Regions from separate parts of the Homo sapiens genome. Here regions 1 and 2 are each linked to region 3. The links come from fine-mapping of genetic effects on gene expression. A gene starts in region 3. Each other region holds a variant in brackets. All regions are shown on one strand. Distances are from middle to middle. Region 1 holds the start of SMYD3-IT1 (SMYD3 intronic transcript 1). Region 2 overlaps SMYD3 (SET and MYND domain containing 3). Region 3 holds the start of SMYD3 (SET and MYND domain containing 3).

Region 1 (4,239 bases), 180 kb before region 3:
TACATTTCCCACGTGAAATTCCAAGAAACTACTTTGATACCATGGAGTTTCTAAGAATGTTGGCAACAGTACATGATTTCTGTCCACAATGGCTATGACTGAAACTAAGCCTCAAGAAAAGACACCATTGCCTGTTTGCAAAATTTCTTCTCAACAAAACAGGTAATTCTCAGGATCTCAAGAGACACCAGCACTGGGCACAACTGTGAGCAACCATCTGAGACTCTAGTTTACAAACAGTGGCAGACTGCGCTCTTGGCTAGATGACAGCACAGGGAGATTTAAAACACCAAAGTTCTATAATCCAATAAAAATAAAGCTGAGAGGTGGGAGCAACAGTAGTAGAAATTAATAATATGTGTCAGACACTACTAAGTACGTTATAGTTGATCCTCCTTGAAATCTATGAAGTAGATATTAGTATTTCCATTTACAGATAAGAAAATTGAGATGGAGAGAATTTTATTTACTTGACTGAGGAAAATGACCTAACCATCATATTATTCAGCCTCCCATTTAAATTTGGCCTCTCTCTAACTGTAATTTTTGTTTGTTTTGAGTTGGGGTCTCACTCCGTCCCCCAAGCAGCACTCATGGTTCTCTGCAGTCTCAAACTCCGGGGCTCAAGCAATCCTCCCATCTCAGCACACCGAGTAGCTAATTGTAATTTTCTGAGTTTCGAAGGATATATTTATGCTTAGGAGTATATACATTTTCTATATTTGTAGCAAATGTTTCGGACCCAATCAGTACACCGAATCACAGCATTTGTCATGCCATGATAAATTTTTTTGAGACAGGGTCTCACTTTGTAGTCCAGGCTGGAGTGCAGTGGTGAGATCACAGCTCACTGCAGCCTCGACTTCCTAGGCTCAAGCAATCCTCCCACCTCAGCCTCCCAAGTAGCTGGAACTACAGGTGTGTACCACCCTGCTCTCAGCTAATTTTTTTTTTAAGTTTTTTTGTAAAGATGGCATCTCGCTATGTTGCCCAGGCTGATCTCAAACTCCTGGGCTCAAGTGATCCTCCTGCCTCGGCATACCAAAGTGCTAGGACTATAGGAGTGAGCCATTGTGCCTGACCAATAAATCCATTTCAAAATCTAACAGGTGCTGGGTGGGGTGGCTCACACCAGTAATCCCAGCACTTTGAGAGGCCAAGGTGGGTGGATCACTTGAGGTCAAGAGTTTGAGACCAGCCTGGCCAACATGACAAAAGCCCATCTCTACTAAAAATACAAAAATTAGCCCGGTGTGGTGGCGCATGCCTGTAATCCCAGCTACTCAGGAGGCTGAGGCACAAGACTCAACTTGAAAGCCAGGAGGCAGAGGTGCAGTGAGCCGAGATCACGCTACTGCACTCCAGCCTGGGCAACAGGGTGAGACCCTATTCCCAAAGAGGGGGAAAAAAATCTCAAAGGAAATTTTGTTTGAAAATGGAAGTGGAGATTTAAAAAAAAAAAAAAGTGTGTGGTAGAGAGGAGAAACAGCTTGTAGAGATGGAGACATACATCTTCTCTTCTCTAAACAATGTGAAAAAGAGCCAGCAGAGATGAAATTGGCCTTTATTTTTTATATGCATATAAATAATCACATCTCCTGTGTTCATCTGTATATCCCCGGTGCACTTCCTATCCTTTCAACACCTTCATTGCTGTCTGTGGAAATTAACACCTTTCATTGCTCACACTTTACACTTTTATCTCCGTTCAGCCACACACTCCCCAGGGAACATACAATCTAAGTTTTTTAAAAAAAACAAAACTATCCAAATAAAGCTGCAAGTAATTTGCTCTAGCCTCTCCATCCAACAGATTATCACTCAGCATCCCCTCCTCTAGAGAAATTCTGGGAGTATCCCTACCCTCACTTTCTATTACATTTAGTGCAAAACAAACATTTTAAACATCAAGCTCTTATTCTAACTCTACTGTAATT[A/G]CTAAATATAACTGAAATCTGTATTCCACAGGTAACAACTTCCTTTGAAAACCTTCTCCGGAGGAGGTTGATATATTTCCCTCAGGAGGTTGGAGGAATCAACACCCTCACTCCCCAACAGCATTTCTAGACCACTGTATATCACTGTTTCCCAACACCAGCCTCGCTTTTGAAATTTACGTCAGTTTCCACTTCTGATATGAGGTCCTCCTTGACACCCACCCCTAGAAAAATTCCTCCTTCCTATGGCTCATGTTACTCAGTTTTTACAGCCAGGCAACAAATTCATAAGTGGACAGGATATATCTATATAGAAAACTCCACAATCAAACTCCAATTGCTATTAGGGTGTGTGTGTATTAACACTGGTGCTAAGAGTCAGAGTCAGACTAACACTGGTGCTAAGAAGTGGGGTGAAAAGGAGGAATATCTGGGAATATGACCGGGAAAATTACAAGTAACAGAAGAAATTTTCCAGGTAAAATTAAGGCTTACGCAGCAGATGCACGTTCAGCATTGAGAACCCGGTCCGACAGGAAAGACACACCATTTTTCCGCCAGAAACTCCAGTGTTCAAAATACAAACTGCCAACTTTTCAGGCAATAATCATGAGCTTCCATTAGAAAAAGCCATCAGCTCACCAGACGACGAAATATGCTCTCGGGATTAAGAACTTTCTCATCCTCCCTGAGCCCTTTCCTTTCAGGGGAAGTGCAAGTTTGATAAAGATATGCATATTCTTCAAGTAAGACTTTTGACCTGCTGAAGTTTTCTGCCTTGATAGATAATTTTGAGATTTAGAATTAGCCACATACTTCTACAACCCTGTGTCAAGAGTATTTTGTACACACTAGACCTGCAAATAAATAAATAAAAGTCTGCTGTACTTGCTAAGCAAATTCAGATTCAACTAACAAACACCTCTCAGCAGGGCAAGAGACTTGGTAAGAAAAGACTAATTCTAATGAAGGTTTAAAACTCCGAAGAGAAAGAACATCTGTGTGAACTGTAAGTATTAAAAATGACAGATATAAAATGAGTCTGAAAATTAGGGAAACCAGCTGATAGAAACATGAAGATTCATTCTACTAGTCCCTCTATTTTTGTGTGTGTTTGAAAATGTCCATAATTTAAAAGTCAAAAAAATTAAGACATAAGCAATTTTAGAAAAGCTCTCAGAATTCCATATGCCTTTCAATGAAAATTAGATGGTCTAAAACTGGCCGGGTGCGGTAGCTCACGTCTGTAATCCCAGCACGTTGGGAGGCCAAGGCGGGCGGATCATCCGAGGTCAGGAGATTGAGACCAGCCTGGCCAACGTGGTGCAACGTTGTCTCTACTAAAAATACAAAAATTGGCCAGGTGTGGTGGCAGGCGCCTGTAATCCCAGCTCCTTGGGAGGCTGAGGCAGCAGAATCGCTTGAACCCGGGAGGCGGAGGTTGCAGTGAGCCGATGTTGCGCCACTGCACCCTAGCCTGGGCGACAAGAGCGAAAACTCCATCTCAAAAAAAAAAAAAAAAAAAAAAGATGGGCTAAAACATAAGCTTAGTATGTCTATTATCTGCACAGAACCTGAATGAATGTAAATGAGAGGAACCAAAAGAAAAACAAAAAACAAGATCTTGTTTATTGAGGCCAGGTATAGCCAGCCTTGTTGACAGCGTAAATTCAGAAGTCAGCAGCTTCCTCTGTATGTACAAACTGTCAGTCAGGGATAGTTGCATGTTGACCCGCTTTCCACAGCCTAATGAACTGACTTTTGAATTTTCGCTGTGAAGAAGGCTGGCTTTACCTGGCCTCAATAAACAAAATCCTGTTTTATGTTATTTTTTTATGGTGCCCGTTTCTTCTCTTTGATTAATTAATTTTATACCAGAGTAAAATGAGGAGAGGAGCAGTAGACTGGGATAAAAATCTCTGCCCAGGGATCTTCACCCAGTTCCCGTGTGCTTGATGTGACTTGCACCATCACACACCGTCAACATTCTGGGCTCAGTGACTCATCCCTGAAAGCTGCAGGATCTATTTAGGTTAATTTAGGATCTTTCATGAACAAGGAAGGAGAAGGAGTCAGGGGGCGGGAAGGAGGGAGAAGGAGTCGGGGGAGCGGGAAGGAGGGAGAAGGAGTCGGGGGGCAGGAAGGAGGGAGAAGGAGTCGCGGGGGCGGGAAGGAGGGAGAAGGAGTCGGGGGGCGGGAAGGAGGGAGAAGGAGTCGCGGGGGCGGGAAGGAGGGAGAAGGAGTCGGGGGGGCGGGAAGGAGGGAAAAGGAGTCGGGGGGGCGGGAAGGAGGGAAAAGGAGT
Region 2 (4,239 bases), 690 kb before region 3:
ATTATTTCAGTTCCCTGAATGTGCTGGCCCTCCTCATGCAGGAGCTGCCCCAGGGTTTGTAAACCTTCCCCTACTACCAGGCACCACCACTGCTATCTGATGGCCGCACAAAGGAATGAGTGAACACCGTCAGGAAGACATTGGTCCTGTGCTCTACGAGAGGGTGTGCCCAACCACCACTGTCCTCTCAGCATCCTCCATTGTGACCAACGTCACCAGGGCTGCCCGAGGAAACCCTAAGAGAGGGAGGGGTATTTTCCGTGAAAACACACCTGGATGCAGGTCTAGGAAACCAACCCCTGGTCAGAGTAGCCCAAGAGAGAACAGGCCCATGCCCAGTGCTTTGGTAAGAATGACAAATTCTTACTTCTAAACAACAGTTCCAAAAAAAAAAAAAAAGAGAAAGAGCGAGCGAGAGAGACAGAGAAACTCACTCAGTAGCAGGAACTGAGAAGAAAGGGGTCACTCACTCACTCAGAGTGGGCTGGGAGGGAAGGCTTCATCATTTATCAGGATATAGTCATGAATACCTCTTTTTCTTCTTTGGAAAAATACAGACTACTGTGGGTGAGTAAATCTCATCTAGTGGGCAAGCCGGAGTTTGATTTGAGCAAAGAATAGAGGGGTAGTTGGGGTGAGGAGGTGAGGAGGAGAGGAAGGCATGGAGCCATGGTCATGAGACAGCTTCTTTTTTTTTTTTTTTTTTTTTTTTTTTGAGACGGAGTCTCGCTCTGTTGCCCAGGCTGGAGTGCAGTGGCGCGATCTCAGCTCATTGTAACCTCCGCCTCCCAGGTTCAAGTGATTCTCCTGCCTCAGCCTCCCAAGTAGCTGGGACTACAGGCGCCCGCCACCACGCCCGGCTAATTTTTGTATTTTTAGGAGAGACGGCGTTTCACTATGTTGGCCAGCCTGGTCTCGAACTCCTGACTTTGGGATCCACCTGCCTGGGTCTCTCAAAGTGCTGGGATTACAGGCATGAGCCACCGCACCAGGCCTAGACAGCTTCTTTCATTTGAAAATGTTCTCTTAGATAAAATGTATAAGGGTCAACATGCAGCACACAAGCAAACCTCCTTCCCCCAGGTGCAAGCACAGCAGCTGGCCTGAAGATAAGAGTTAAATGAATCCAGCCCCCTGAAAGGAAGGTTGTCTATGCTACAGAATCAAATCAGGAAGAAAGGAAGCTATTCTCTCACCTAAGGGCATTGAGAAAGGTACATGAATAGTAATTATCTAAAAAGAGATAATCAACAAGGAGTCAGAAGGGCAAAACCCTGTCTAACTAATCTACTTCACCTTTACAGCAAGGCTGAAGACTAGGTGGGCAACAGCGCTGCATGTCAAAGGGTTTACTGTGATTTCACAAAGCTCCATAGAAAGCCTCCAAATGAAGACTGGCAGGCTGGGAAAGTCTCTGAAACCATGAAGAAAAGGGACTAGTGGAGGAGCTGCCCTCAAGAGAAAGGCAAGATGTTGAGTTTAGATGGCCTCAGAATATTAAGCACCTAACCTGCTCTGTCATTTAGGTTAATTCATGGAGCCCTATATATATATATATATATATATATATATATATATATATATATACAGATGAATCACTGGCATGAGATCAGCTAAAATATTCATTGTAGTTGCTTTTAGGTGATTGTAGATTTCTTCATTGTTTCACCTTTTCCGTATATTTTTAAATGACAGCAAAATTTTATAATAAAGTTTTTATAATAAATTTATTTTTATAATAAAGAAAAATAAACAGAAGGCAAATTGATATCCTCACATAATGTGGGAGCTACAAAAGGGATCCTAAGTCAAAGTTAGTGCCCTTCCTGTCTAGCCTGGGAGGAAAACGTGACTATTAAATTAATTACTGAATATGATGTGAACTGCAGTTCTGAGGACAAGGACCTGCATTTCTGGTCTACTCCTGTTTTGAAGGTAAACAATTTAATAATTTCAGTGTATAGCTACCTCCAATTATCCAAACCACTGTCTTCATAGGAATATAAGAAAATTAAGGTAGATA[C/A]CTGAAGCAGCACCAGGAATCAGGACAGATAGAGCTCAGTTTTTTAAAAGAAGATTCTTTCCTGGTCTTCTTCAACTGGGGGCAAAAAAAAAATAAAAACGAAAAAATAAACAATAAAAATAAATAAATAAAATAAAAAGAATGCTACTGTTACACCACATACTTGTTTTAAAGTCTTGCCCTTCTAGTACTGACTACACGCGGCCCCAGGGACCTGTGAAATGGATGCTGCTGCAAGATTTTATTTAAACAACATCTTGATCTTCTGTGCCATGTGACTGGCATTGCGGAGAAGCTGCTCTTTCTAAAGGCTTCAAGGTCACTTAAGCTTGTGCCGGCTCTGCTAAGAGCTCCGATGAGGAATAAACTTTAAGATCTTCTACTAGACAGAATTTTGGAATTCCCAGCAGACCTGTTTCCCTTGGCTTCCAGATCCTCTCAAATGACCTTATCCCTTATCCCACCATGCACACACACACACGCACGCACACACGCACACACATGCACGCACACACACGCAAGCACACACACACGCACGCACACACGCATGCACACACACACACTCTATCTTCACTGAAGGCTCCCAAGACATCTTCCTCACAAAACACACAAAACAAAGACAGCTGTCCATTGGTGCTCAAAATAAATGAAGGGTAAACTAAGCCCACAGACACCATGAGGTGAGGTGATATCAGAAAGCCAGAGCAGGACAATGGTCTTGATCCATCCGCTAAATCTTTAGGTACAACCTCCAAGGAAAATGACTTTCAGTCAAGCCAGGCAACTATTGCTACCAACAATAAAACAGAAGATGCTTTTACACTCATGGCCCCAGCATTGTTTCTCACAACTAAAAGAGGCCAAACATCCCAACCAGAAAAAAACACAAACACACACAGGAAGCAACTGTTAACAAATGGAACGTGATAGTGGCAGAGCCCAGAAGAGCTGTTGGTTAACTCAACACGAAGGAGTCCTTGCCTCTCATTCAGGGGTGCACACAGACATGACCCTACCATGCTTTTCCTTCCATCCCAATCTCCATGGTCATCTAGTCCAAGCTGTACGCTCTAGTTTTTCTCAAAGTGGAGCTTATGGGTAACCTCCATCAGAATAGCTGGGGAGCTAATGACACATGGATCCCAGATCAACCAAGGGGATTTTAGAGACATGGGGCCTAGCCCCCAAGTGACTCTGATGCATATTAAGACTTGAGCATCACAGGTCAAGAAGTACACAGATCCCAGTTATCAACATAGCCAGATGGCTGGTGGTAGAAGCAACCCTGTCCCTGTAGCACCTCTCTGTGTCCTGCTCAAAAGCATTAAAACATCATTCTTAGATAAGAACAGAGACAAAGGATATGTCTTTAACACTTTACAGTCTATAAAGTTTTTCCACAGCCACTGTCTCACTGAATCAACCCCTAAGAGACAGAAATGAAAATCGCTGTTTTTACAAACTGAGAAATTACGGGCCTTTGAAGTGTTTCACAGCCTTCACAGCCTGCTGGTAAGAAGCAGAGATCAGGCCTTGGACCTGGGTCTTGTGATTCCAAAGCCCATGATCCTTCGGATTCATCAAAGCTCCACTCCAAGTGCCTACTGGGACTGCCTTGCAGCACTCACCTTCTGTAGGTGAGTAGGTAAGTTGCGGCATGCCATTCTTTCAAAAGAACAGTGCACCTCTGTGACCGAATATGGGCCACAGTATCTCAAGGATATTTTGGTCAAAGCCCTGGGGTGTGGGGCAGAAGATAATGTATTCAATGAAGCTTCTAGAGAAAAGCATAATAAATAAAGAAGCTCCTACCTGTCGCTAGCCTTCCTAAATATCCCAAGAAATCAAGAATTTTCTCCCAATGGATTACAGCTGAGCATCTACTCAGAAGAGAAAATCAAGTCCATTTCAGTTTAGACGGCAGCAGCAAACTCCCCACAGAGAGTACTCCCGGGGTGGCTAGGGGGTGGACAGTGCCATTACTGTATCAATCAGGCCAAGGAGTGGGGCTTGCACTACTGTTTGCTAGAATGGAGCTTGGCTCTAAAACAGGATTCTCAGACACATTTCAGAATAGGACGACTGGAACAATGCAATACTCATCTAAGCAACTGCAAAAGCCAGCTACAACCCAACTCAAGGTGCCATCTATTATGAGAGGTCCCCTTCATCTATGTAAAAAAAAAAAAAAAAAAAAAAGAGGAGCCAAGATGGCC
Region 3 (4,239 bases):
TTCATTAAATTCCTTTTTTGCTTAAATCCCCAGTTACTGCAAACAGGAAAAATGAATGAGACTAATGAAATAGTATGGTAAATCAACAAGCATCCCACCCACAAAGGGTTTGTGTAGCTTATTTTGGAAATGCACAATTCCGTGTGTCACAAGACTCAACTTCAGCTCTAATGATTCAATTGCCAATTTGTCACCATTTATTCATTCCAAAACTTTTCTGTTCCAAGAACTATCTTGAAAGGAACGAATTGTTTTCAACCACACAGTTTACAAAAACTTCAAGATGCTGCTCTCTCCCGAACAGATGTTTTCGCTGTTATCATTACTTCAGAAAGCAACAGACAAAATTATTATTTGGTAGCTCTAAAATGCAAAGTCATATTCCTGAATTATGAATCAAATGAGAACAAAGTAAGAACAATGGTCAAATTACAGATACGAGTTTTGCACTTACCGTCCCACCTCCACCCACCTAAATCTCAGACTGGCAGGTCTGAAAAGCGGCCATGCACAAAATCATCGCACTCATCTCAAAATAGAACTCTTCTTCCTCGCACACAGAAGCTCAATAATATTTGTTGACTGAATGCAGTTCCTATTATTCATGTATGTTACACATTTCCATAAATTGCTTTCACATAGCACTTTACACCGGCACAGCGCGTCCAGGCTTCCAAAACACCTTCACGTGAATCCCTGCATCTAGAATGGTGGTTAAGAGTTAGACATGCCTGCACAGCCATTAAATGGCACAGCACACGGGGGACCCGTGTCTGATGCTCCCACAGCACATTAATTGCCCCTCTATTTCAGCCCTTCTGGTACACTGTAATTCTCTCTCTCACTTGATCAGCTCTTTGAGGAGGTCCCGTTCCTCTTCGTATCCCCAGGCCACACACAACCCAGACCACAGAGGTGCACCGTAGACATCAAGATTCTTCCACCTGCTGCAAGCCTGATGCTTTACCGGCGGGGCCTCTGCAGGGGAGCCTGATTTATACTCATCCCAGCTCCCACCCAGCCCCACGCCCGCCACGTGTGATTTCCACAGCCGCACCAAGGAAGACTGTCCAGCACACAGACTTTTCGTCTCCCAGCAAAATTATCCCCGGCACAACGCTTCCCCCTCAAGTCTGCCCAATGGCTTTCCCATTTCCACCGCAGCCCAGGTTGGGGGGCAGTGGCTGAGCCTGGGCCCCCTCCCAGCCCCGCTGCGGCAACCTAGGGGGGTGTCCGGGCGGGGCCTGTCAGCAGCGACCCGCCCCCGGGCACACGCGCGTCAGGGGCAGCACCGCCAAGCTGCCTGTGCAGCCCCATCCAGCAGGAGTCCCGCGGCTGCCGGCCGCCCGACGCCCCCCCCTCCCCAGCACCCCACACAGCTCGCGACTCAGGTAGGCGAGGGCGCTCCTTACGCACCCGAGAAGGCAGCGGTCGCAGACGACGCCACGACTCCCCTTGCACACCGTGTACGCCAAGGGATCCGAGCGGAAGAGTAGCTCTCCGGGGCGCAGCGGGGTCACGGCGCGCAGCCCGTTTCCCCTCTTGGCGGTTGCGAACTTTTCCACCTTCAGCGGCTCCATCCTCCCGCAGCTCCGGCACCTCAGACGGCTACCCGCGTCCAGCAGCGGGCGTCTCACGGGCTGCCGGGACCCGCGCGCCTGCGCCCTGCGCGCACACGTACGCCCGAGGGGCGGGGCGGGCGCGGTGGGGCAAGAGCATGCGCAGATGGAGTCTGGAGGGACGGCTGGAGTGGAGTGTGTGGGACCTGAAGGTGGTCGTAAGGCTCCGCGTGCGGCTCGTGCCCATGGCGACTGCGCAGAAGACAGGCGGGGTTTTTTTTCTCCCTCTAACATTGTATTACGATCATTTTAACGCATACGGAACAGTTGAAAACAGTGCAGTGAACACCTATATACCTCCGCCTAAATCAGACAACCTAGCACTTTGCCATTTCTGCTCGTCACTCTCTCCCCACCTGTAGCTATGTATACACGTATTGTCGTTAAACTATTTCAAAGTTGCAGGCATCATGACATCACAACTAGTACTTTGCACTGTAACTTTTTTTTGTTTTAGGACGGAGTCTTGCTCTGTCGCCCAGGCTGGAGTGCAGTGGCGAGATCTCGGCTCACTGCAACCTCTGACCTCCGGGTTCAAGCGATTCTCCTGCCTCAGCCTCCATAGTAGCTGGGACTACAGGCATGTGCAATCCTCCCGCCTGGGCCTCCTGACTAGATGGGACTATAGGCTCACGCCACCATGCCTGGCTAATGCTTTTTACTTTCCTCCAGAGACAGTCTACCTATGTCGCCCAGGCTAGTCGCAAACTCCTGGCCTCAAGTGAACCTGAACCTCCTGCCTCGACCTCTCGAATTGCTGGAATTACAGGTGTGAGCCACCACACCCAGCTTAATTTTCTTTTTTGTTTTTGGGGTTTGTTTTGTTTTGTTTTGTTTTTTGAGACGGAGTCTCATTCTCGCCCAGGCTGGAATGCAGTGGTACGATATTGGCTCACTGCAACCTCTGCCTCCCGGGTTCAAGCGATTCTCCTGCCTCAGCCTCTTGAGTAGCTGGGACTACAGGCGCCTGCCACCACGCCCGGCTAATTTTTGTATTTTTAGTAGAGACGAGGTTTCACCGTGTTAGCCAGGATGGTCTCGATCTAACCTTGTGATCCGCCCGCCTCGGCCTCTCAAAGTGCTGGGATTACAGGCGTGAGCCACCGCGCCCAGCCCACCCGGCCTAAATTTCTTAGTTTGGACAAACGTGCCATGGTAATGCAAAATGTCATTATTAAGGGCAGCTGGATGGAAGGTGTAGGAGTACACTATAGTGCCTTTCAATTTTTCTGTGTATCTAAAGTCATTTCAAAAGTAAACATTTATTTTAAAACATGAAGGTGGTTATGCTTCCATGAGTGTAAAGTACAAAAGGCAGGCTCGTGGTGCTGTCAGAAGTCAGAACACTGGTTTCAGGGCTGGGGGTGTTGGGAGGGGCTGGGCATGGTTGGCTTTGTGATCTGGGGGCTGGTGTGTTCCATCTGTGAATATCTTTTAAGCTGTGCACTTACCAGGGATGTAAGTCATATCTTAATAAATTTTCATAAGTTTGACAAAAAATAAAATGAGGATGGGAAGCTTGTTTGGGTTGTGGGGCCTCGGGTGCTTATCCAGCCATGAGCTGTGTCCCAGATGCTTCTAGAAGCCTGGAGGGAGCTGAGAACATTCCAAGTCGAGGTGGCAGAGCCAAGGCCCTGAGGTGGGAGCGCAATGCTGCACATCCCCAGCTGTGAATGGGGTGTCCTGGTCAGAAGCAGTGCTGTGTGCACTGCAGGGCCGGCAAATCCACGTCCACATTGTGGCTTGGTGCAGTGAAAGCCAATCTCAGCCCCCTCCACAGTGTGATTAGCCTGCCAGCAGGTGGCCAGCTGGTCCTCCTGGGAAATGGTGCCAACCCAGAGACTGGGTGCAAGTGTCTCATCCACGGAGGGGCGCTCAGCAGTGGTGTCAGCCTGGTGAGCCTCGGTAAGGGCACGTGCAGGATGCTGAGCCTCTTCCGTTCCCATGCCCGTCTCAAGGCCACTTGCTCCGTGGGCCCATCCAGCAAGCATGGTGGCCAGGAAAGAAGCCGGCTCCATTCACAGGGCGTGCTGTTTTGCTCACCTCAGGACCAAGAGCATCCTCCATAGTGATTCTCTTTGGTGGGAGCACTAGAAACATGAACCACAGATACCTTCAGCGTCTGAGCCGCTGAGGCGAGGGCTGCAGGACACCCTGCTGTCGGGAAACCCTGCACTGGCGGCTGGAAGGCATGTGGTGGTGGCGCCTGCTGTGGCTGCAGCAGTTGCTGCGAGGCTTCGGGATCTCGCCGGCCCCTGCGAGGTGAATTGTGACAGTGCAGAGCTCCGTGGTACCAGGGCCCCCTGCATGGCCATGCTGACTGCAGCTGGGAGCCCACCACACCTCTGGTTCCCCGCTCTTCCCAGGGCTGGGGTCTAGGCCAGGCCCCTCTTGGCCTGCGAATTGTGCCCTGGGAGGGGGACACTGTTCCACAGGTTGGGACCAAGGACCCAGGGCATGCTACTGGCTGGCTGGGCTGCAGGGATGCCATGCTCACCTTTCTCTCTCATGGCCTTGACGGGACCGGCTTCCTCATTGAACAGCATTTTCCAAGGTGTCTGGGATTGCTGGTGGGGTGCCACCCTGGCTCCTTCTAGGCATGCCCGTCATTGGCCACCAA

The links. PIP is the estimated chance that this variant, and not a neighbour inherited with it, causes the effect. A credible set is the group of variants that fine-mapping cannot tell apart.
Region 1: its variant is the best candidate, but not a certain one, in a credible set for the expression of SMYD3 in whole blood (TOPMed, PIP 0.50).
Region 2: its variant is the best candidate, but not a certain one, in a credible set for the expression of SMYD3 in whole blood (TOPMed, PIP 0.62).

Annotation. Positions count from the first base shown.
Region 1 is chr1:246,320,974-246,325,212 of GRCh38, forward strand. The region is part of intron 5 of SMYD3 (SET and MYND domain containing 3); the gene reads right to left. It overlaps SMYD3-IT1 (SMYD3 intronic transcript 1), which reads right to left and starts at 1,465. Exons shown (of 2, transcript NR_189283.1): 1 at 1,311-1,465; 2 at 1-895. RefSeq lists an enhancer at 3,302-3,822. The variant A/G (reference allele first, on the strand shown) is at 1,938.
Region 2 is chr1:245,812,318-245,816,556 of GRCh38, forward strand. All of the region lies in intron 10 of SMYD3 (SET and MYND domain containing 3), which reads right to left. Among named protein-coding and RNA genes, the nearest start is that of SMYD3-AS1, 290 kb to the right of the region's middle. RefSeq lists an enhancer at 3,901-4,239. The variant C/A (reference allele first, on the strand shown) is at 2,024.
Region 3 is chr1:246,505,638-246,509,876 of GRCh38, forward strand. It overlaps SMYD3 (SET and MYND domain containing 3), which reads right to left and starts at 1,642. Exons shown (of 12, transcript NM_001167740.2): 1 at 1,417-1,642. The coding sequence starts at 1,580. RefSeq lists enhancers at 593-1,093, 1,094-1,594 and silencers at 1,280-1,329, 1,600-1,779, 2,269-2,501.